3 linked regions of the Homo sapiens genome follow. The protein of the gene in region 3 interacts with the protein of the main gene of each other region in a biochemical or structural test. Each region holds a gene or a part of one and is shown on either strand. Other genes may lie near its edges. The genes, in order: ARIH1, ARIH2 and EIF4E2.

What was found.
Region 1: the proteins of EIF4E2 (region 3) and ARIH1 form a complex in vitro, tested with the Homo sapiens proteins (one study listed by BioGRID).
Region 2: of the proteins of EIF4E2 (region 3) and ARIH2, one has a biochemical effect on the other in vitro, tested with the Homo sapiens proteins (one study listed by BioGRID).

What each region holds. Positions count from the first base shown.
Region 1 is NC_000015.10:72,469,938-72,477,371, forward strand, and holds the start of ARIH1 (E3 ubiquitin-protein ligase ARIH1), read left to right. Parts: upstream 1-4,392; 5' UTR 4,393-4,702; coding exon 4,703-5,077; intron 5,078-7,434. UniProt on the Homo sapiens protein: E3 ubiquitin-protein ligase, which catalyzes ubiquitination of target proteins together with ubiquitin-conjugating enzyme E2 UBE2L3.
Region 2 is NC_000003.12:48,977,780-48,984,887, reverse strand, and holds part of ARIH2 (E3 ubiquitin-protein ligase ARIH2), read right to left. Parts: intron 5,407-7,108; coding exon 5,255-5,406; intron 4,536-5,254; coding exon 4,392-4,535; intron 3,255-4,391; coding exon of another isoform or gene 3,229-3,254; coding exon 3,160-3,228; intron 1,993-3,159; coding exon 1,909-1,992; intron 1,690-1,908; coding exon 1,618-1,689; 3' UTR 1-1,617.
Region 3 is NC_000002.12:232,553,689-232,560,796, forward strand, and holds part of EIF4E2 (eukaryotic translation initiation factor 4E type 2), read left to right. Parts: intron 1-2,727; coding exon 2,728-2,842; intron 2,843-4,195; coding exon 4,196-4,330; intron 4,331-7,108. UniProt on the Homo sapiens protein: Recognizes and binds the 7-methylguanosine-containing mRNA cap during an early step in the initiation. Acts as a repressor of translation initiation.

The sequences.
Region 1 (7,434 bases), on a different chromosome or scaffold from region 3:
CTTACTAGGACTTGGGGACAATGGGAGTGCCAAATTACCAACAATGATTATCTCGGCACCAAAAAGGTATTAATTTGTGTATTTTCTTTTTCAAGAACCTTTTCCTGTTGTTGTTTAGAGACTACTGTGCTTCTAGCTAGTAATCACCATCGCTGGGAAAACAATAACACAGGCAATACCTTTAAGAACAAGTCATTAAAAAACAATACAAAATAATGTATGTGGGTCATCCCTTGGCCAATGTGGGGCCAGAGAGAAGTTGTTCTACTGGTTTTCCTTAAATAGCACCATAACCTAACCTGAATCTAAGATGGTTTCCAAAATATGTATAGAACGAATGTTAACTAATTAATTCTATAAAAATATGTATAGAATGAAAGCTAATTAACCATCAAACCATGGTTATAATGGTTTATCCATGGATAGGAGACCCAGAAATTCAGAAGCACTGTAATACTTTTCATGATATTAATAAAAAATGAAGTCATGAGATCATGGAAAAGGTTTCTGAGAAAAAAATCAGACCAATTTTCTTCCCTAGAAAATGGGGATGACACAGGCTGTGTACATATAAGCATAATTAAAATAAAACTGATTAGGCTGGGTGTGGTGGCTCACGACTATAATCCCAGCACTTTGGGTGGCCGAGGTGGGAGGATCATGAGGTCAGGAGGTCGAGACCAGCCTGCCAACATGGTAAAACCCGTCTCTACTAAAAATACAAAAATTAGCCAGGCATGGTGGTGCGTGCCTGTAGTCCCAGCTACTCAGGAGGTTGAGGTAGGAGAATTGCCTGAACCCGGGAGGCAGAGGTTGCAGTGAGCCGAAATTGCTCCACTGTGCTCCAGCCTGGGCGACAGAGTGAGACTCCGTCTCAAAACAAACAAACAAACAAATAAACAAAACTGATTAAAAGATTATAAAGGTGACTTATGACACTTTTTAAAAGCTCTGATTTTGTGAGTACTTAGCTATGTGCCAGGTACTGTGTCAAATGCTTTAAATACATAATTTCATTTGATACTCACAAATAATCCTATGAGAACAGGAATTATGATCCTCCAAAGTAAACCTCTAAAAGAGAGGCTTAGTAATTTGCTTAAGGTTACAGACAGCAACGGGGCAGGGGGGTGCATAGGCAAATTCAGATCCATCTGCTTCAATAACTTTTATCCTCTTCACCTTTATCCTATGCCGCTTCTAAACATTGCTGGTGTAAACTCTGGTAAAATTGTATCTCCAGCTCTAATTTTTCCTGACCTTCAGTCTTGTATCTTAGTTTATGGAACTGCCTACTCAACACCTCTACCCTGATGTCTAACGAGCACCTCAAATAACATGTTTCAGTGAGTGATGCCACCATTCACCCAGTCGCTCAAGCTCCAAATACAGTAGGCATCCTTGTTTCCTCCATCAAACCCACTGTCAAGCCACCAGCAAATATTTTGGCTCTTCTTTCAAATTCTATCTCAATCTGACCACTTCTTATCACCTCCACTGCCACAACCCTAGTTCAGGCTATTATCTACTTACCTGGACTACTGAGATAGCCTCATAATTGCTTTGTTTTCGTAGTCCATTCACCATAAAGCAGTCAGTTATCTTTTTAAAAACACAGATCATATAGTTTCACTCTTCTGCTTAAAACTCGTTAATAATTGCCACTGGAATAATGTAAACTTCTTAAGATGACCTACAAGGCCCCTACTGGCCCCCTACCTTGATCTGCTTTCTCTGACTTTATCCCTTAACACCCTCTTCTTTGCTCAGCATGTCTCAAGTCACATTGGTCCTGATATTTTCAAATTCCTCTGTGACTAAAAGTCACATGTTTTGAGAAGATGTGAAAGGGCAGGGCTGAAGTTTGAGGAAACTGCAAAGGTGTGAAAGAGTTGTCGAGAGTGGGAGAACAATCCAGAAAAATTTAATAGGATTGCTGGGAATTATTGAAGGTTGAGTTGTGCTTGGTGATTGAAATTAAGTAGGCTGGGTGTAGTGGCTCACACCTGTAATCCTAGCATTTTGGGAGGCCAAGGTGGGAGGATTGCTTGAGGCCAGGAGTTCCAGACCAGTCTGAGCAACATAGTGAGATGTATCTGTAAAAAAAAATAAAAAATTAGCCAGGTATGGTGGTGTGCACCTGTAGTACCAGCAACTCAGGAGGCTGAAGTGGGAGGATCACTTGAGCCCGGGACATTGAGCCTTCAGTGGTGATCGCACCACTGCATTCCAGCCTGGGTGCCAGAGCAAGAGTGTCTCCAAAAAAAAAAAAAAAAAGAAGAAATGTAGTAATAGAATACAGATGGCTATGCACATTTCTCTAATAGTGGTCAGCTGCTCCATTTATCAAAGTGGAGACTATGGATGGTAGGGTTCATTCAAGATAGGGGTACAATGAAAAGAAAGGTGAGGCAAAGGAGTTTAGGGTACTGACGAGTGTTACTGAATTTTTCTGTAGGTAATATCACAATGGAGACGGGGTGGACAGAAGTGTTCCTTGTGTCCATGGCTTGCCTTAGTTGTGGCAGCAATCTAGAATTGCTAAATAGAAACACTGAATCAAAGAACCTAGACCTGGCTGGGCGCTGTGGCTTATGCCTGTTATCACAGCACTTTGGGAGGCCGAGGCAGGTGGATCACCTGAAGTCAGGAATTCGAGACCAGCCTGGCCAATATGGTGAAACCCCATCTCTACTAAAAATACAAAAATTAGCCTGGGGTGGTGGCATGCGCCTGTAGTCCCAGCTACTCAGGAGGCTGAGACAGGAGAATCGCTTGAACCTGGGAGGCAGAGGCTGCAGTGAGCTGAGATCACCACTGTACTCCAATCTGGGCAACAGAGCGAGACTCCGTCTCAAGAAAAAAACAAACAACAACAACAACAACAAAAACCTAGACTACCAGTATTGAGGTTAAATGCTTTACTTTGTAAATCCTGAGGTTAAGAAATATAATTATCGGTATTTTAAAACTTACAAAATGGACAAATTGGAAGAGGCTTTTTAACATTATAATGGAATTTTTCACTTTTCAAAATCAATTTCCAAAGGGAACCTATAGGTTGAACAGTAAGATTTATCAACAAATCAGGGGTTTTGATTTTAAAAGGTTTTCAATCTGGCCAATTCTTCAGATTATCTCAAGAGGGAGCCTTCTTATGCCTCTTCTTCCTTCATAACACTTCTCTGGCTCGCATGTCCTGTTTGCAAAGATTTAAGCCCACTCTTAGGCATAAAATGCTCTTAACTGACATGACCCCTGACTAACTTGCCTAATATTTTGCCATGTACCCTCCATGCACTTTAAGCTCCCCAAACTATTACTTACTTGACACCTTCTGCGCTTTTGCTTGTTCTCTGCGGCTAGACCATCTTCCCTACCTTCTCTGTTGAACTCCTAGCCATTCATCAACACTCAGCTCACATAGCACACTTTCAGATGAGATTCAAGCATTATCTCTCTGGCTACATTTGGCCCTTGTAGATATTTCTATTATTGCCTGTATTTTGTTGAAGCATTCATGTCTTTTATGTACTACATAGTACATAATATATCTACATTACAAAGCATTTTTATGATTCATGTTTTGGGGCATCCAGCGGTTAAAATAGGGCAAGGGTTATGTGGTCTTGGCCAGGTCCCTTTTCCTTTCTGAGCTTCAGGTTCCTCAGGTATAAAATGGGTACTATGGCTCCGTGAAGATGAGACAGAATATATGTAAAGCCCTTACACAGTGCTCAATTCATGAAAATCATCGCTGTTTACATTGTTTAGGGCCCTCAAGAGGCGCTCTTGTCAGCGGGGTGGAGGAAATGCCTCTTTAAAATGACGTCATTATAGGAGACTTAAAAACCACTGCACGTCTGTACAAGTGGACAGAATCACACAGCTACCTAAAGTGGGTTCACCTGTCATACAGTTTAGAGGTTCCACTTACAACAGGTTTCCATCAGTAGCCAAAGCAACAGAAATTTTAGCTTAACGGCTGAGGGCTTCCGGGATTACCGCAGGGCGGGCGGGAAGCGCCTTTCCGCTCCGGAGGGAAGGCCGCGTCCCCAAGGGACTGCCTAAGTGGGCTGGATCCCTATGGCCTGCGGCAGACACCACCACGTAGGCGGTCCAGGGGTCCCTCTCTCGGTGACTGGTGACCAGGAGGCCGCAATCTCTTCACATAAAAGGTCTACGGGTTTCCGCTCGGCCCTCACAGCGGCAGCGGATCGAACCAGGAAAGCAATTCCCGCTCGGCTCCCCTCGGGTCCCAGGCCCAGGAAGGCCGGGCCGTGGGGTCTCCCCGGGCTCCACGCAGGGGCGGTGGGGCGGGGCGCAGTGACGCAAAGAGGAGTGACGCGACGACGCAGCGCGACGCGGTGACGCACGCCCCTTTGTTGGCTCAGTAGCGATAGCAGCGGCCGTGGAGGTGGCGTTGGGGACTGTTTTCTCTCGGAGGCCGGAGCGGAGCCGCGTCTGACTGAGGCGGGCAGCAAGCGGCCCCCTCGCTCCCTCCCTCCCTCCTCCGCGCCCTCCCCGCCGCCACCAGCCGTCAAACGCCAACCGCCGCTCCTGGGGAGGAGCCGCGGCTCGCGGGGCCGGAGCCAGGCCTGCGTCCGGACATCAGCCGGAGCCGGAGCGAGAGCCGGGGCCTCGGCGTCCCCGCCCTCTCCCCGCCTCGGCCAGCGTCCGCCGGGCCCCCGCGCGTCGCGCCATGGACTCGGACGAGGGCTACAACTACGAGTTCGACGAGGACGAGGAGTGCAGTGAGGAGGACAGCGGCGCCGAGGAGGAGGAGGACGAAGACGACGACGAGCCGGACGATGATACCCTGGATCTGGGCGAGGTGGAGCTGGTGGAGCCCGGGCTGGGCGTCGGCGGGGAGCGGGACGGACTGCTGTGCGGGGAGACGGGCGGTGGCGGCGGCAGCGCTCTGGGGCCCGGCGGTGGCGGCGGCGGCGGCGGCGGCGGTGGTGGTGGCGGGCCGGGGCATGAGCAGGAGGAGGATTACCGCTACGAGGTGCTCACGGCCGAGCAGATTCTACAACACATGGTGGAATGTATCCGGGAGGTCAACGAGGTCATCCAGGTGAGGGTGGCCGCCGCGCCAGCTGGACCGGGCCCGACGGGGGAGCGGATTCAGGCGGCACGCGCGGTCCCGAGGGACAGGCCTGGGCCTGGTGCGCAGCCTAGCCCGGTGCCTCCCGGCCTTGTCTTCTCCGCTGCCTCTGCTGGGGATAGAGGGTGTCGAAAGCAGAGGTTCGCCGATTAGCCGGGTGTGGGGAGGTGCGCTGGGGGCGGTGCTTCCCAAGTCCTGCTATGGCGGAGGCCTTCGGTCGCCTAAGCCTTCTCTTGCGGGCAATTTCTGCCAGTCCCTGGGCCGGGTGTCCTTTCTCTGGCCGGGCGATCGCCTACTGGGGCGGGGCGGAGGAGGTGGGGTGGAGAAGAGGAGTCAGGAAGAATTGGGCCCTGACGGGACTTACCCCGGCCGTAGCCTCATTTGAGCACTTTTGGAAGGGATTAGAGTAGGCCTAAGAGCAGCTTGGTGTACAGTTGCCCCAAGTGGGCACCAGTTAATAAAGAAATGGATCTTGGCAGTCTCAAGTGCCTACTTAAAGGTGGGGGAAGGGAAGTATTTCTCGGAAGAGGTGCTGATGGGCCTTCTTTTCAGATGGTGAGGCTTCTGCTTACATCTTTTTTATGTCTTTGCTGTTTGGGACCTAATTGCTACTTTTTCTAGTCGTAGCAGATGACTTGCTTGAAGCTGTTGGAATAGTTACTGCATATTGCATACCCTTCCTTGTAGCTAAAACAACAACAAAACGCAGTGTTGTCTAATATTGGACAAGACTCTATTGTGAGTTAGAAAGCAGAGGTTTTCTGCTTGTGAACTCCTTTCTCTGATATTTTCTATTTTGTGGTAAGTTAGGCTTGGTGTAAGTTGATAACCACATCTCATTTAACCATGTGCGTCAGATTTTGCATTTTTGAGCTTTAGAAACTCAAAAGTTTTCATTTGGGGAAAAAAAAAACCTCAGTTCTCCTGAGGAGTCAGGGATATGGCTGAAGAATAAAAATGAAGCTTGATTCAGTGCAATTTTTAGAAAACCTGGAAGGAAACATATATGAGCAGCAAGTTACTATTGCCTCTTTTATCAGTATTATTTCTTTTTTGTTTAACTTAAATTGGTTGGCTAAATATTCATTGACAAATTAGAAGTATGTCACTGTCAACTCGTTGACTTTCTATTATTAACTGATTTTTATAGTATTATAAGTAACAGTTTTAAAAATTGAAGCATCTATTCAGGCACTGTTTCAATACAGTGTTTTGCATAATAGAAAAATCTCTGATATCTAGTGCCATTACTAAATAGTGGAAGTCTTCATTTTTAATCTAGAGAACACAGTCTAAGAAGGAAGTTGAGGATTGTAGAAGATAATTTTTTGTTTGTTTGAGACGGAGTCTTGCTTTGTCGCCCAGGCTGGAGTGCAATGGCGCAATCTCTGCTCACTGCAACCTCCGCCTGCCGGGTTCATGCAATTCTCCTGCCTCGGCCTCCCAAGTAGCTGGTACTACAGGCGCGCTCCACCATGCTCAGCTAATTTTTTGTATTTTTAGTAGAGACGGGTTTCACCATGCTGGCCAGGCTGGTTTCGAACTCCTGACCTTGTGATCCGCCTGCCTCGGCCTCCCAAAGCGCTGGATTACAGGCGTCAGCCACCGTGCCCGGCCTGTAGAAGATGCACATGTAAGAAAAATCTGATTAGGTAAGAAAAAATAAAAAGACAAAACAAGCCTGCCACCCAGAGACGTACAACAAAATGCGAACTGTAGTTATTTTTCTAGACCTTTGGATAGCCATTAATATGGTTCCACGTTAATAACAGTGGAACCATACTGTATGTTCTGTTTGTGTTTTCAGTGGAAAAACATTACAGAAATACTCTGAACAACCTTCTGTCAAGTAAATTTTTCGAGAACTTATATGATTATAGATCTGAACTAATTTATTTAATCAATCTGTTATTTGCCTTCCTTTTTATTTTCTAGTTTCTGGCTTTTATAAATATTGAAAATATCCTCATAGGTCAGTCTTTGAGTGTTCTTATTTTCTTGGGATAAAGTGAATTGCTGAGTCAAAAGAATTTGCTCATTTTCAATGCATTTGATACATACTACCACATTGCTTTCAGAAAAGTTATGCTAGTTTTCCCAACCAGTGTTTGATGGGCAAAAAAAACCTGGTGAGATTGAATTTATGTTTATTGGGCTTGGTATTTCTTTTTTAAATTGCCCCTCGCTTTTTGCTCATTTTATTCTCTTTTGCCCATTGCCCCTCTTTGGGATATTTATCTCTTACTGGTTTGTAAGACTTCTTTCTATTAATAGAGGTTGGAAATAGCAGTTATCTAGGTTTTTAATGTTGGTTTGATAAACACTGA
Region 2 (7,108 bases), on a different chromosome or scaffold from region 3:
GGAACCTGCAACCAGCCATGGACCTCATGATCCCATGAGTCACAGCTATCCTCTGTCTTTAAGAATGACTGTTTTATAGCTTACATGGTACCTGGGAAATTGCTGACTTGCAGCTGAAATGTATGAATACCAAAGAATTTCTATCACAATATTCACAGATCTCTGTATCAGCTCTACTTGGAGGTCAAGCAGGCTTGGGAGAGTATAGACTGCTCTGCCTGCCCTAGAGTGGAAGCATTGAACAAAGCCACAAAAACCCCAGAGATCACAGATCTAACTTTTCAATGGCCCACAGGACCAGGTTCAGGACAGGTAGGACACCAGGCAAACCACTTGTTCCCTTGCGCTTCATTGTGCAAAAGCTGGTCTGTTCCTCTGGCCAGACCCTCCTTAGTACAGGATCTCGGACCACAAACCAAGGAGTCTCGTGGCCTTGGATTCCCAGACCCTAGGATGGTATCCCTCTGACAGCTGGAACCAGGCAAGGGGGAACACACCTCAGCCTCAGAGCAGCCTCTGGACACTCTCCAGGTAACATGAAAATAACTTGTGCAAACACAGCCCCCATGCCAGAAAGTCCAGTGCCCTAGGAAGGGCTATCCTGAATTCTGACCCTGATGTTTGCCAAAGGAGAATGCAGCAAGACAGTGTCAGGTTTGGCCAAATGTGACCCTGCTCAGAGCTATACCACTTGAATACTGGCACAAAAGAAAGGACCAAGGTAAAGCAAATTTATTTGGGAGGAACAATTCCCTTCAAAAGTAGATCCCTATCTTTAGGAGACAAAAGGCAACACTGTGATGAACCCACACCCCCTAGTTTGGGGGGCCACAGGCCCAACCCCATTCTGCTGTGGGCTCTAGCCTCAGTAGCCAGATCCAGGTAAACCTCAGTTTCAAGAATAAAGGTGAGCCACAGACATGCAGCACCACCAGAGACAACAACACCCCGTGGCAAGAAGACCATGTTCTGGACTGTCTCCGTACTGCCACGGTAAGGCAGGAGGCATGCTGTGACCCCTTGTGCTCCATGCCCATTGCACAGGCCAGTTCAATTCCCTACCATCTGCCACCCATGCTCTTCTTTGGGACTACAACTCTGGCCAAACGTGAATATGGAAAGCAGAGGCCCAGGGCCCTCTTGCAGTACAGACATTTTGAGGTGGGTAGGCAGCATATGTTACATTCTAAGTAAAACAGCTAGAGGGTAAAACACTCCAATGCCAATTTATTTTCAAAAAGGGCTCTGTGTTATCCTATAGTTTGCCTTTTTTTTTTTTTTGTATAATTGTACAACCTTTGAAAGTTACATAAGTTGTAATGATCTAATACTATTAATAGCCATTCAGAAAACACTTTCCCTCCCTCCCAACAACCATCCAGGGGGAAATAAAAGTCCTGAAAAGAGGCCAGTTCAACATGGCCTCTACCCTGGTAGAAACAAAAAGTGAAAAGAGAAGAAAACAGAAATCAACTAAGAGGTGTTGCCAGTGTCTCTCAGGAGTGGGGCCCTGGCTGTTGCCTGGGGTCATGAAAGGCAGAGCCTGCAGCATGCAGTATGGCAGCCGGGAGACCTTGCAGCCACATCTTCCTCACCCCGGCACATCCACATCCCAACTTAGGTGTCATGGAAATCTTTCAGCAGGGTTCTCCTCCGCTGCTCCGCTATATGCATCTGGTTCTCCAAGTCCTGCATCAGAGAAACAAGGTGTGTGCTTGCATGGCCCAGGCCTGGGAGCAAGGAGTAGCCAAAGCCACAAACACCCTCCAGGACCTCCAAGGAGTCAAAAACACTGCCCTTCCCATTCTTAGCAGCAGCTACCAGTGCACAAGCCAACAACGCTGTCACCTATTACCATGCCAGTCCTCTACCTGCAATATAGAATCCAAGAGGACAGTAGGCACTTACCCCTCTGTCATAGCTGTCTGCACGCTCCACTTTCCATGAGAGGTTTTCGATCTCAGCCTCCAGCTGAGCCTGCTGGTATTCAAACTGTATAGGCAGAGCAGGAGGGTCAAAAGGTGAGTGGGCTGTGGCTGGGGCAGGGCCTGTACACGGGGGTGGGCACATGCAGCACCTCAGGCTCACAGGAACTACAGACAATCCTGATACTGTCCTCAGAAAGTAGTGTTATTCCCTGTGCCCAGAGCCAGAATCCAAACAAAAGGCTATCCAAACAGCAAGGCCACATTCACCCTCGACCCTCAAAAGGTCCACTCCACCCTCCACACTCCCAAAGGCAGGCAAAGAATTTAAGCCACTAAAGAGAACACTCCCAACATGAAAGGGAATGGATGCTGTAAAAAATAAGTCAAATGAATATTCTCAGACACTATCACTTCATTTTTTTCAGTCCTCCAGCAAATCAAGAGCCTTAAAAATATTCAAACTTAAATACTTAGTAATCATACATCTAAGAAGATATACAGCTTTATGCACAAAAATATTCCTCAATGTCCTATTTATAGCAGTGAAAGAAAGAAAGAATAAATGTCCCAAGTGATGGTACAATCATGTAATGACACATTTATGCAACCATTAACAAAATGGTATTTACCAGGCAGGTAAATCATAACAGCTATAACAATAAACTGTTATAACAATAAAATGTTATATATAACCTTGATTATATATACACAATGTTAATTTTAAAAGGCTGGAAAATGCTGACAGTGGTAATTTCTCTCTGGACAATGTAAATGCTTTTCTGTTTTCCAGCATTTAAACAAAAATGTTAATTACTAGTTTATTAACACTATTGGTAATAACAATAAATTCATATTCAAATTCAACTCTAAGATGAAGAATTAAACAAGGTATAAAACAGTCAAATATATCTTAAGGACATGCATGCTAAATATCCCTCCCAAGCATGGGCACTACTGGCCTCCCACTGGCCACAGACCTTTTTAGCCAATCGCCCTTTAAATACAGTTGTTCAGAGGATTAGGTGCATGTGCCTTATATGACACAAAATAATAGCACCTGAGATCTATTTTGGAGGTGCCCAGAGCAGAAGTGGAATTTTGCAATTAGAGTTTTGTTTTAACTTTGCCCTCCCAATGACCAAGGTCTGGTCCTCACTCTCCTGCAAAGTGCTGGTAGAGAAGGGCACCTTTGAGGCTAACGGGACAGAGTAGAAAAATTGCTTTGCCTTACCAGCTTCTTCCTGGGTCCGGACTCCATGTAATATGCATATGGGTAGGTGTATTGCAGGGTGTATCGACACTGCAACAGGAGAGAAGAGAAGGAACCTGTGTCTGTGATTCTAAGCTACCTGCATCTCAGGTGGCTCTTACAATTCCTACCCTCAACATGCAAATTAGCCCAGCTCTATAGATATAGGCCTGAAAGAAATGATACTAGGCCAAATAGAGGATGAATTGGGAAAAGACATGAGGGAAAAAACAAACAACGATGGTCACAGAACACCCACAGTTTCTTTTACAAACTGATTATCAGCAGCTGCCTCAATGGATTTTCCCTCTTGAGTAGGACATCAGAGTCAACACATCTATCTCAATGCTTAGCCAAAGACAACCTTTTTTTTTTTTTTGAAACAAGGTTTTGTTCTGTTGCCCAGGCTGGAGTGCAGTGGTGCAATCCCCACTCACTGCAAACTCTGCCTCCCAGACTCAAGCGATCCTCCCACCTCAGCCTTCCAAGTAGCCAGGACTACAGGTGTGCATCACCACACCAGGCGAACGTTTGTATTTTTTTTGTAGAGACGGGGTTTTCTCATGTTGCCCAGGCTGGTCTCAAACTCCTGGGCTCAAGCAATGCACCTGCCTTGGCCTTCCGAAGTGCTGGGATCATAGGCGTGAGACACTGCACCCTGCCCAATCTTTTTTTTTTTTTTTTTTTTTTTTTTGACAGTCTTGCTTTGTCACCCAGGCTGGAGTGCAATGGTGTGATCTCGGCTCACTGCAGCCTCTGACTCCCAGGTTCAAGCAATTCTCGTGCCTCAGCCTCCCAAGTAGCTGGAACTACAGGCATGCACCACCATGCCCAGCTAATTTTTGTATTTTTATTAGAGACAGGATTTCACCATGTTGGCCAGGCTGGTCTCAAACTCCTGACCTCAAGTGATCAGACAATCTTTTATTTTCCTTTGAGTGATACATAAACAGGACAAAAGGAGAAGAAAAGTGCTCTAGTTTTCCCTGCAGGCAGAGGCAGTGCAACACTCTTATAAATCCCCTGGACATCCATCAGAGGACTGGGTCCTTAATGGGCACAGCACATGAAAATGTGGATCCACAAGCAGAAGCATGAAAGGCTGCACAGGGTGCTAAAATACCCTCTTTCAACAGAGCTTCCCACTATCAGAGGTCTGTGCCTGACGGAGCCAGGCACTGGACCAGGGATAAGATGAGTGAAGTGGTAGATACCTTGGCCAAGAGCTTGGCAGCATTCTGTAGGTACTGCCAGTCGATCCATGTCCCCAGATTGTTCATGACCCTCTCCTGAATCTTCTCGTGAATCCGCTGGTATGTCTGTGCCTCTAGCTGCAAGCTTTTATTGTGGTTTTCCCACTACAGGGCACAGAAGAAGAAGAAAACCACAGGAGTCCCATGAAGGTGCAGAGGTCTACACAGGAGTTCAGGATAGACACCTTGCTGGCAGGACATGGCCACAGACTCCTCTAACTTATTCCCCAAAGTGCAAGAGCAGGTCTTCTTCAGTCCATCCTTCTAACCTGTCCAGAGCAGCTGTATGCTTACTGCCAGATCGCTCTACCCTTCTGGGGCAACAGGACTCGAGCCCTGAGGACTCTGCAAAGCTAGGCCCCTGATGGTCTACTATGCTTAGAGACCATTATGCATGGGGCTCTTTGGGCTTCTAAAGGGCTCCCTGGGAGAAACTGCCTTCCAAATCTGACTACTAAGATGATACTATGGGAACAGATTGTGAGGACAGAAAGAAAAAAATAAATAAAAATTAAAAACGTAGAAAAAAGAAAAAAAAAAAAAGATGGTACTAGATGGAAAAGACTGTCTGATGGCCCTTCATTGTCCTTCAATCCATCATTCAACCAAGGTCAGTACCAGGTCCTTCCCTGTTGGCTGGGGATATACCCTATAGAGCTTGAAAGGCACATCTATAGAGGCAGCACCAGGGATACTGCAGGAGCTCCATTCACTGACTTCTATGTGCACAGGCTAGCTCTGTCTACCAGTCCCTGGGAATCCCACCAGCAGGCCAAGTGGAAGAAGCCTACCCTGTAGGGGAAGGTACAGGAGAGGACACCTACCCTCTCAAAGTAGAATAAGTACTTCTTGAGGGCTTCCCTCGCCTGGGCTTGTTGGCTCTGGTTCACGATGTCAGGATTCTCCTTGTAACGACTGCACTCATAGTATTCACTGCCATGAGTCTTCCAATCTCCTAGACACATCCAGCAGAAGTCTGTGCAGAACAGAGGAAGAGTCATTTACATCTACAAGACAACTCCACTTTCCTCCATAGGCAGAGGAGTGAGACAGACAGACCCTGCTCCCAAAGGGGTCACCTGAACACAACTTCCCAAGGGTGCCTCTTTCCCGAAGGAATGTGCACCTCTCATCCCTGTCACATCCTACTGTCCTTGTAGCCTGTACTTGCTGATAGGAACAAAAGCCTATGGATAATTTCTATTCCATGAGCACATGTGCCATGCGCCTTATTAATCTAACACAGGCAGATGCTGACCATACAGACTACTGGTCTGCTATGTCAATGCCACTATAAGAAGGAGGAACTAGTCCAACTGAGGCCGACCTGACTGTCTTAAACGCACATCATCAGTACAAACTGACCTCCCTACTGCTTCCTACCCTCACACTTGTCCTAGAAAGATTTTTGTATATGAAACTAAGAATAAAGGCTTTCCCCCTTTTTCTTCTATTTTAAAAAACACATTTCTTATTTTTCTTTTTCTTTTTTTTTTTGAGACAGAGTCTCACTCTGTCACCCAGGCTGGAGTGCAGTGGCGCGATCTTGGCTTACTGCAACCTCTGCATCCCAGGTTCAAGCGATTCTCTTGCCTCAGCCTCCCGAGTAGCTGGGACTACAGGTGCCTGCCAACATGCTGGCTAATTTTTGTATTTTTAGTAGAGATGGGGTTTCACCATGTTGGCCAGGCTGGTCTCGAGAACCCCCAGTGTTCAGTGATTCGCCCATCTCTGCCTCTCAAAGTGCTGGGATTATAGGCGTGAGCCACTGCGCCTGGCAAATAACACATTTCTATAAAACCTAGAGCTATCCAATGGTTCATAATCAGAATTATGATTCTGCTTTTGCGGTAGCTCACACCTGTAATACCAGCACTCTGGGAGGCCAAGGCGGATGGATCACCTGAGGTCAGGAATTTGAGACCAGCCTGGCCAACATGGTGAAACACCCGTCTCTACCAAAAAAAAAAAAAATATATATATATATATATACACACACACACACACACACACACACACACACACACACACACACATACACAAATTAGCCAGGTGTGGTGGCACATGCCAGTAGCTACTTGGGAGGCTGAAGCACGAGAACTGGTTGAACCTGTAGGGCGGAGGTTGTGAGCCGAGATTACACCACTGCACTCCAGCCTAGGTGACAGAGCGAGACTGTGTCTCAAAAAAAAAAAAAAAAATCCCCTATATGTTCAAAAAATTATTGTTAGATGCTCAAAGAATTACTGCAGTCTAATGGAGAGAAGCCAACCACAGTTTTGTTGGATGAACAATGGCCTGTTGATATTCTGCATTCCATGAGCACATGGGCTATGTGCCTTGTTATATCTGTGTCAAGGCTGCTATGAGAAGCAAAACTTGTCTGAAGTCCTCCTGGTTGTCTAGAACACACATTGTTCTAATAATACCTTATTAGATTTTATATCTGGCCTATTCTGCCTCTTCCAGACCCTGACAATGGTAAATCCTGTTTCCCAGGATTCACTCTCCAGGGATAACTTGGCTTACTGACTTCCCCAAAAATGAGGCTCTTGAATCATTTTAGGGAAGCCAAAGCAAAACCCGGAGACCCAGAGGTTGTTCAATTTTTCTCCTCCTGGGAGCCTTCACCTAATAGTGGCAACAATGCCCTCTCCTTAATTAGCTAGGTGTGCTTG
Region 3 (7,108 bases):
AGGCTTAGAGGGCAGAGTGGTTGGTTAGTTCCACTCTCAGGTAATAAAAGCACCAGATATAGGTCCATTAGGGTTCCCATTTACTGTCTTAGAAAGGAGCCCTAAGTGGTCCAGGGATCACAGGAGCATTGTTTCTTCTCTGACAATTATTTTTGTTTCCTGGTAGTGATCAGCAGCAAACCACTAAAAAGAAAGGAAGGTATATACTTTTCTTGGGTCTAGCAAAAACAAGATGCTGGGATGACTGTACCCCTCTTCAACCAAGATCTAAATGCAAGGGACCCCAGAGGCTATAGTGGGAGTTGGAAGCTAAGAAGGGAGGAAAAGGGTTTGCATCCCAAGGGTGTGCCCTGAAGAAGAGAGTTGTCCTGGGCCTAAGCAGAAGAACCTTTGAGATGTTTTTGATCAGGAGACAGAACTGGCCATGAGAGTATAGCTGGAACAAGTACAAACATTTATATGGGCAAGTTCAGAAGAGGAGACCCCAACTCAGCCTAGGTTGGAAGAGGTTAGGAAATGTTGCCAAGAGAAAGTGGCCCTCAATCTGAGTCCTGTAGGACAAGTTAACTAGGCAAAGAAGGACTTCTTGAGGAGAGACCACATGATGAGCATAACAGAAGGATAAAATGGGGGCACCAAAATTAGGGTGATACAACTGGAGTGAAAAGAGTTTGTTGGGACCAGGAAGGAGATGATATTGGGACATGTGAGCAGAGCAGGGGCCTTTGCACCATGCTGAGGCGTGGGTATATCTGTGTACCTTTTCTCCTCAGCTAGGTTCTTGGGGACAAGCACTCTGGTAGCTCATACACACCATAGATGCTTGGTAGATGTTGGTAATTTTTAATCTGTAGATCTTGTGTGCTAGACAGGCTCCTTTTGAAAAGGAAACCAAATGTTTAATAAAGGGGAAGTTTAATAAAGGGGAAGGGAATATCATAAGTACAGATGATGGTCTCCTGGAAGTCCAGGGAGGCTGAATAAAACCAGAGAGATGTTAGCATTAGCAACAAAATGAAACTCCCCTCCATTTTCTCTGCTCATCTGCTCCATTCTCTTATCTCATACTGGCTTTCTCTGCTTTTGCTCATTGTCTTAATTCTCTCAGGGCTTTTCTTGCATGGGGCCCATATGGCTGCCCCAGCTCCTGAGTCTATGATCTTTCATCTCCTGGATGAAATGCTGAGGGGAGGAATCTGCTCATATTTTTGAGCAAGGCTCTGGGGCATAGGTTATTGCCCAGGCTGGACTACCCTTTGGTCAGGTGCACTTCCTAGTTGTGTCTTGACCAGGGTAGGGATGGGAAGGTTCATGGCACAGGGCATAACCTCCTGGGTATATCCTACAGCTAGGGCTGTGAAATGGGCAGAGCAGGCACCCCAACATGTGACTAGCTCATTCATTCTAATATTTATTGGATACTTTTAATGTACTAGGCACTGGGGATTCGTGGGCAAAAAAAACCAGACCACAAATACAAAGTACCCTGCAACATGTTTATGTGTCAGCATAGGGTAGTATCTGAATTATAACTGGAGCATTTCTAGTACCATTCTTGAGAACTGCCTAATTTCGTTTGACCACACATATAGTTATTGGGGCGAGAAAGATGATTGGAGAGAAGATCTGTGATGAATTAATGGTCCAGCCCTAAAATAAATGGCTTTCTTATTGTCTTTGCAAACTCACCTTCCATTTATCTTTTTGTCTGGATCCGGTGATTTTAGGTGTACCTGAAAGCCTTGGGGTAGTTTCACTGCTCATGAAAGGGTAATCCCTAAAGTTCGTTTGACTCTGTGCTTATGAAGCAAGAACACATTTATTCTTTCTTTCAGTCATTTATTTTTCCTTTTGGTTTACCATTTATTCAGCATCTTCTAGTGCCGCATGTTAAGGCAACATCTTGCCCTGGGTGCTGGAGATACCGAGATGAAATAAGACACTGCTCTAAGGGAACTCTCTCTCTAGTAGGGAAAGCAGACATGGGAGGAATGGTGTGACAGACCGAAGGGGTGGTGTTTGCAAATGGCACCGATACGGCAACATAGATTGCTAGAGGAGGAGGATCCTGGCTGGCAGGAGTCAGATTCTAGAGGATCTTACATTTTGCTGTACTTTATCTTAGAGGGTAGGCATCAAAAAGCGAGGGACAGTTGAAAGTTTAAAGCATGCAAGTTAAATGTCAGATTTGCACTTAAAAAGATAATGCTAGTGAAAGGATGGATAGAGAGTGAGAGATTTGTGTCAGGAAGACCAGGAATTTATTATATGATTGACGTGTCAGGAGAAGAGGGCCTAAACTAAAGTAGTGACAGTGAGTGTAGAAGAGGTGGTAAGGAGAAGTGGCAAAGCAGATAGTACGTTTTTAACCTTCATTTGAAATGCCATAGCATTAGAGACTCTTCTCATTTTTTACTCCATTTTTGGCAGGGAAAACAATCCCTTAAACTGTATACCTTAAACATTCCCTTTAACTGGTTCTTTGTGTGGCTTTTTAGAAAACTGAAAGACAGTGCTTTGTGGAGTTCACAAGTTAGCTGATGGGTGTTTCGTTTTTGTTTAATCCTAATTTGCCTGTCTGTGTTATTTTGCCCTTCTTACATCTCAGGGCCTGAATTTGAGTGACTTTGGGTTGGTTACATAGTAGTTCGTATGACCTGGTGGCTTTGTTAGGTAAGCAAGAATTGACTTCGTCACAGAATTGTATTGTGTTGCCTTTCCATTCAGTTTGAAAGATGATGACAGTGGGGACCATGATCAGAATGAAGAAAACAGCACACAGAAAGATGGTGAGAAGGAAAAAACGGAACGAGACAAGAATCAGAGCAGTAGCAAGAGAAAGGTGAGTGTTGGCTGCACAGATGTAGTTGCCTTTGAACTTGAGACTTTTATTATCTTGTGGAATCTGTTTATCTGGAAGATACCAGATTAACTTGATGGCATCCTGTGTTGGAATATCTGACTTTGTTCTCAGAAAAACATTGTGCAATCATTGATGTTCATTTTCAGACCTAGAACTTTTCTCTTGCCACAGAATCTTGAGATGCTGCCTTGCTTTCAACGTTCTCCTAGCCTGAGATGGAGATTAGTCCTGGAGCTTAACAAGGCTGTTAGCTGCTTCATAAGCCACTGCTGAGTGTTTCAAATCCTACATACCCCTTGAAATTGTAGACAGTTTAGTCAGCAATAGTCTAAGGTGAAAGTGACTTGGAAAAGGGAAAACTTAGGGAATGAGAGAGAGAGAGAGATCAATTTTTTCCTTGAAATATCAAAGCAGGCTGGGTGCCATGGCTCATGCCTGTAATCCTAGCACTTTGGAAGGCCAAGGTGGGTGGATCACTAGGTCAAGAGATCGAGACCATCCTGGCCAACATGGTAAAACCCCATCTCTACTAAAAATACAAAAATTAGCTGGATGCTGTGGCGCGTGCCTGAAGTCCCAGCTACTGGGGAGGCTGAGGCAGGAGAATCGCTTGAACCCAGGAGGCAGAGGTTGCAGTGAGCCGAGGTCGCGCCACTGCACTCCAGCCTGGCAACAGAGTGAGACTCCGTTTCAAAAAAACAAACAAAGAAATATCAAAGCAATCACTAATTCATTTATTCTACAATATTGAGTAACCCTCCAAGGGTTACTAGCATTTTATGCTAGATGCTAAGAGGACACAAAGGTGAATGAGACTGTGGAAGGGGCTTACGTTTAATAGTACCAATAATAATACTGACATCTGTTGTGCACGTACTCTGTGCCAGGCACTGTGCTCAGCATTGTATATCCACTGATTCATTTGATCCTCTCAGCAGTATTGTGAGATGGTTGTTACAATTTTCCTCATTTTGCAGGTAAGAAGATGAGGCACAAACAGGTTAAGTAACTTGACAGTGATGAATCTCATAGAGGAGGCAGTGCTTGGACTGGGCATATGCTGAGATAAGATACAAAGATGAATACCTATTATATGAGGGAGAAAGTTACAAAGGCCATAAGAACACAGGTAAAGTGTTTCAGGAATTTAGAATCAGTTAACCACTGAGGAAATGTACTGTGTAAGCAGAATCTTTGGCACATTGCAGATAGTTGAGGTTGTATATCCTTTTTTAATTGTGGAGGTGGTAAGGATTGACACTGCAAAATGTTCTCTCAGTCTCAGACCACGTGACAAATGCCCAGGACTAACACACCTTCTTTACTTCCCAGGCTGTTGTCCCTGGACCGGCAGAGCATCCCCTGCAGTACAACTACACTTTTTGGTACTCCAGGAGAACCCCCGGCCGTCCCACGAGCTCACAGAGCTATGAACAGAATATCAAACAGATTGGCACCTTTGCCTCTGTGAGTTCTTGGTGAATTAATGGAGTGTGCCTTGATAGTTCGTTCATGCCTGTATTGATATGATGTTTATTTACTTTCCTAGTAACCTATTTAAGATTCTGGTTTTCTTAATTGACTGACCTGAGTCTCCGGAGTCAGATTTGTTCATTCTTAGGTTTCTCACTAGATATCCATGGTTAGCATGTAGGTATCAACAAATATGAGAATTGTAGAGTTGATCAGAAGGGCATAATACAAAAGAACAGATTTGGGTTTTTTTATTTTTATTTTTATTTTTTAATTGAGACAGAGTCTCTTGCTCTGTCTCCCAGGCTGGAATGCAGTGGTATCATCTCAGCTCATTGCAACCTCCGCTTCCTGGGTTCAAGCAATTCTTCTGCCTCAGCCTCCCAAGTAGCTGAGATTACAGGCATGTGCCACCACGCCCAGCTAATTTTTGTATTTTTAGTAGAAACGGGGTTCCACCATGTTGGCCAGGCTGGTCTGGAACTCCTGACCTTAGGTAATCCACCCGCCTTGGCCTCCCAAAAGGCTGGATTACAGGAGTGAGCCGCTGCACCTGGCCCTGTTTTTTTTTTTGTTTGTTTTGTTTGCTTGTTTGTTTTTTTTTTTAAGTATATATTTATGGAGTCCTTACTAAGTTCAAAGTGTCATGGATACAGAAGTTTATAATACATGGTGTCTATCTTCATGAAGTTTGACAGTAAAGTGAAAAATTTTGAAAGTTTTGTATTTAAGAACCTCCCATTAGGGTTTTGGCTGTATTAATGATTATGCATAAAATATCTTTTTCCTGTGTTCAGAAAGAAAATGAAATCTCTAATAATTGCTTTTGTGGGTACTGGCAGTCAGAGAGCCCAGACTGTCTCATCTCTCTCCCAGGTGACTTGGTTTGTGTACCCCAAGAATCCATCTGCAACTAACACCACTCTAGTTGAACAAAGGTTATTATGTACCCAGTGTGTGCTGTACATTCAATCTCTGGGCAGAATCAAATGTGGGGTTTGTCATTTTCTTGAAATTGGTGAAGTATTAGTCCTGTTTAAAATGCAGAAACTACGGGGGAGCGGGGAGGGATAGCATTGGGAGATATACCTAATGCTAGATGACGAGTTAGTGGGTGCAGCGCACCAGCATGGCACATGTATACATATGTAACTAACCTGCACAATGTGCACATGTACCCTAAAACTTAAAGTATAAAAAAAAAAAAAAGAATGATTCAGTGTAGTTGTATGCTAGATATATTATATGGAATTATCAGCAGTTTACCAGTTGGTTCTTTATTAGTACTCCTGATGTCTTAAACAAAAATGAATAATTGTTTATCTTTTCTCAAAGTGTCTCATCTGTTCAGTAACAATCACGGTTTTCTCCAACAGTCTTGCATATTACTTTTTTTTAAAGTGCTTTGGTTTGAAAAAAATAAAAAAATAAAATAAAATGCAGAAACTAGAAAAGAATACTCCAGTAGGAAATACTACAACAAACTGCTAAGGAGGAAGGACATATAATACATACTTTATTTGTATAATTTCCTTCCAACATTATGATAGCCCTATGAGGTCAGTGATATTATCCATGTTTTACAAATGAGGAAAGTAAAACTTGGGTTAAGTGTCTGATCTAAAGTCTCAAGTTATGGTGGGGCACGGTGGCTCATGCCTGTAATCCCACCACTTGGGGAGGCTGAGGTGGGAAGATTGTTTGAGCCCAGGAGTTTGAGACCAGCCTAGGCAACGTGATGAGACCCTGCCTCTACAAAAAAAGTTTAAAATTAGCTGGCTTGGAGAAAACGGGAGCATTAAAAAAAAAAAAAAAAAAAGGCTGGCCATGTTGGCATGCACCTGTGGTCCCAACTACTCAGGAGGCTGAGGCAGGAGGATCAGTTGAGCCTAGGAGGTTAAGACTACAGTGAGCCTTTTTTGTGCCACTGCACTCTAGCCTGGGCAACAGAGATAGATCCTGTCTAAAAAAATTTTTAAATTCTCGAGTCAGTCATAATTCACTGGATTAAGTCGAGGAGCCAGTATAATTGAAACTCAGGTACAGAAGCTTCCAGATAGCTGAACACATGGAGGTGCCTGGAGGGTGGTGCGCCTAGAGGGGACATAGAAGCTCCCTGAACCTTCCTCCATACCTTCCCCCATACCTTGCCCTACGCATCTCTTCATCGTATCCTTTGTTTATAATAAACCAGTAATGTAAGGTACCAAGACAATAACCGGGGAAAGAATCGTCTTTTCAACAAACATTGCTGAGACAACTGGATTTCCAGGTGCAGAAGAATGAATTTGCATTCCTTCCTGACACCATACACAAAAAGTAACTAAAAATGGATCATAGACCTAAATGTAAGAGCTAAAATTATAAAATTCTTAGAAGAAAATATTAGTAAATCCTAATGACCTTAGGTTAGGCAAAGCCTTCTTAAGTAACACACTAAACGCACAAGCAGCAAAAGATTAAATACTTGGCTGGGCGTGGTGGCTCACGCCTGTAATCCTTGTACTTTGGGAGGCCAAGGCAGGAGGATGACTTGATCTCAAGAGTTTGAGACCAGCCTGGGCAACATAGTGAGACCCCATCTGTATAGGATTTCATCAAAATTCAAAACTTTTCTGCTTCAAAGGACGCTATCAAGAAAGTGAAAAGATAGCCTACAAAATGGGAGAAAATATTGCAAATCATATCTAATACTTGTATCTAGAATACTCTTACAACTCAGTTATAATCTGCTTAATATGAAATCAACATCATTACTATGCTGAGCTGATA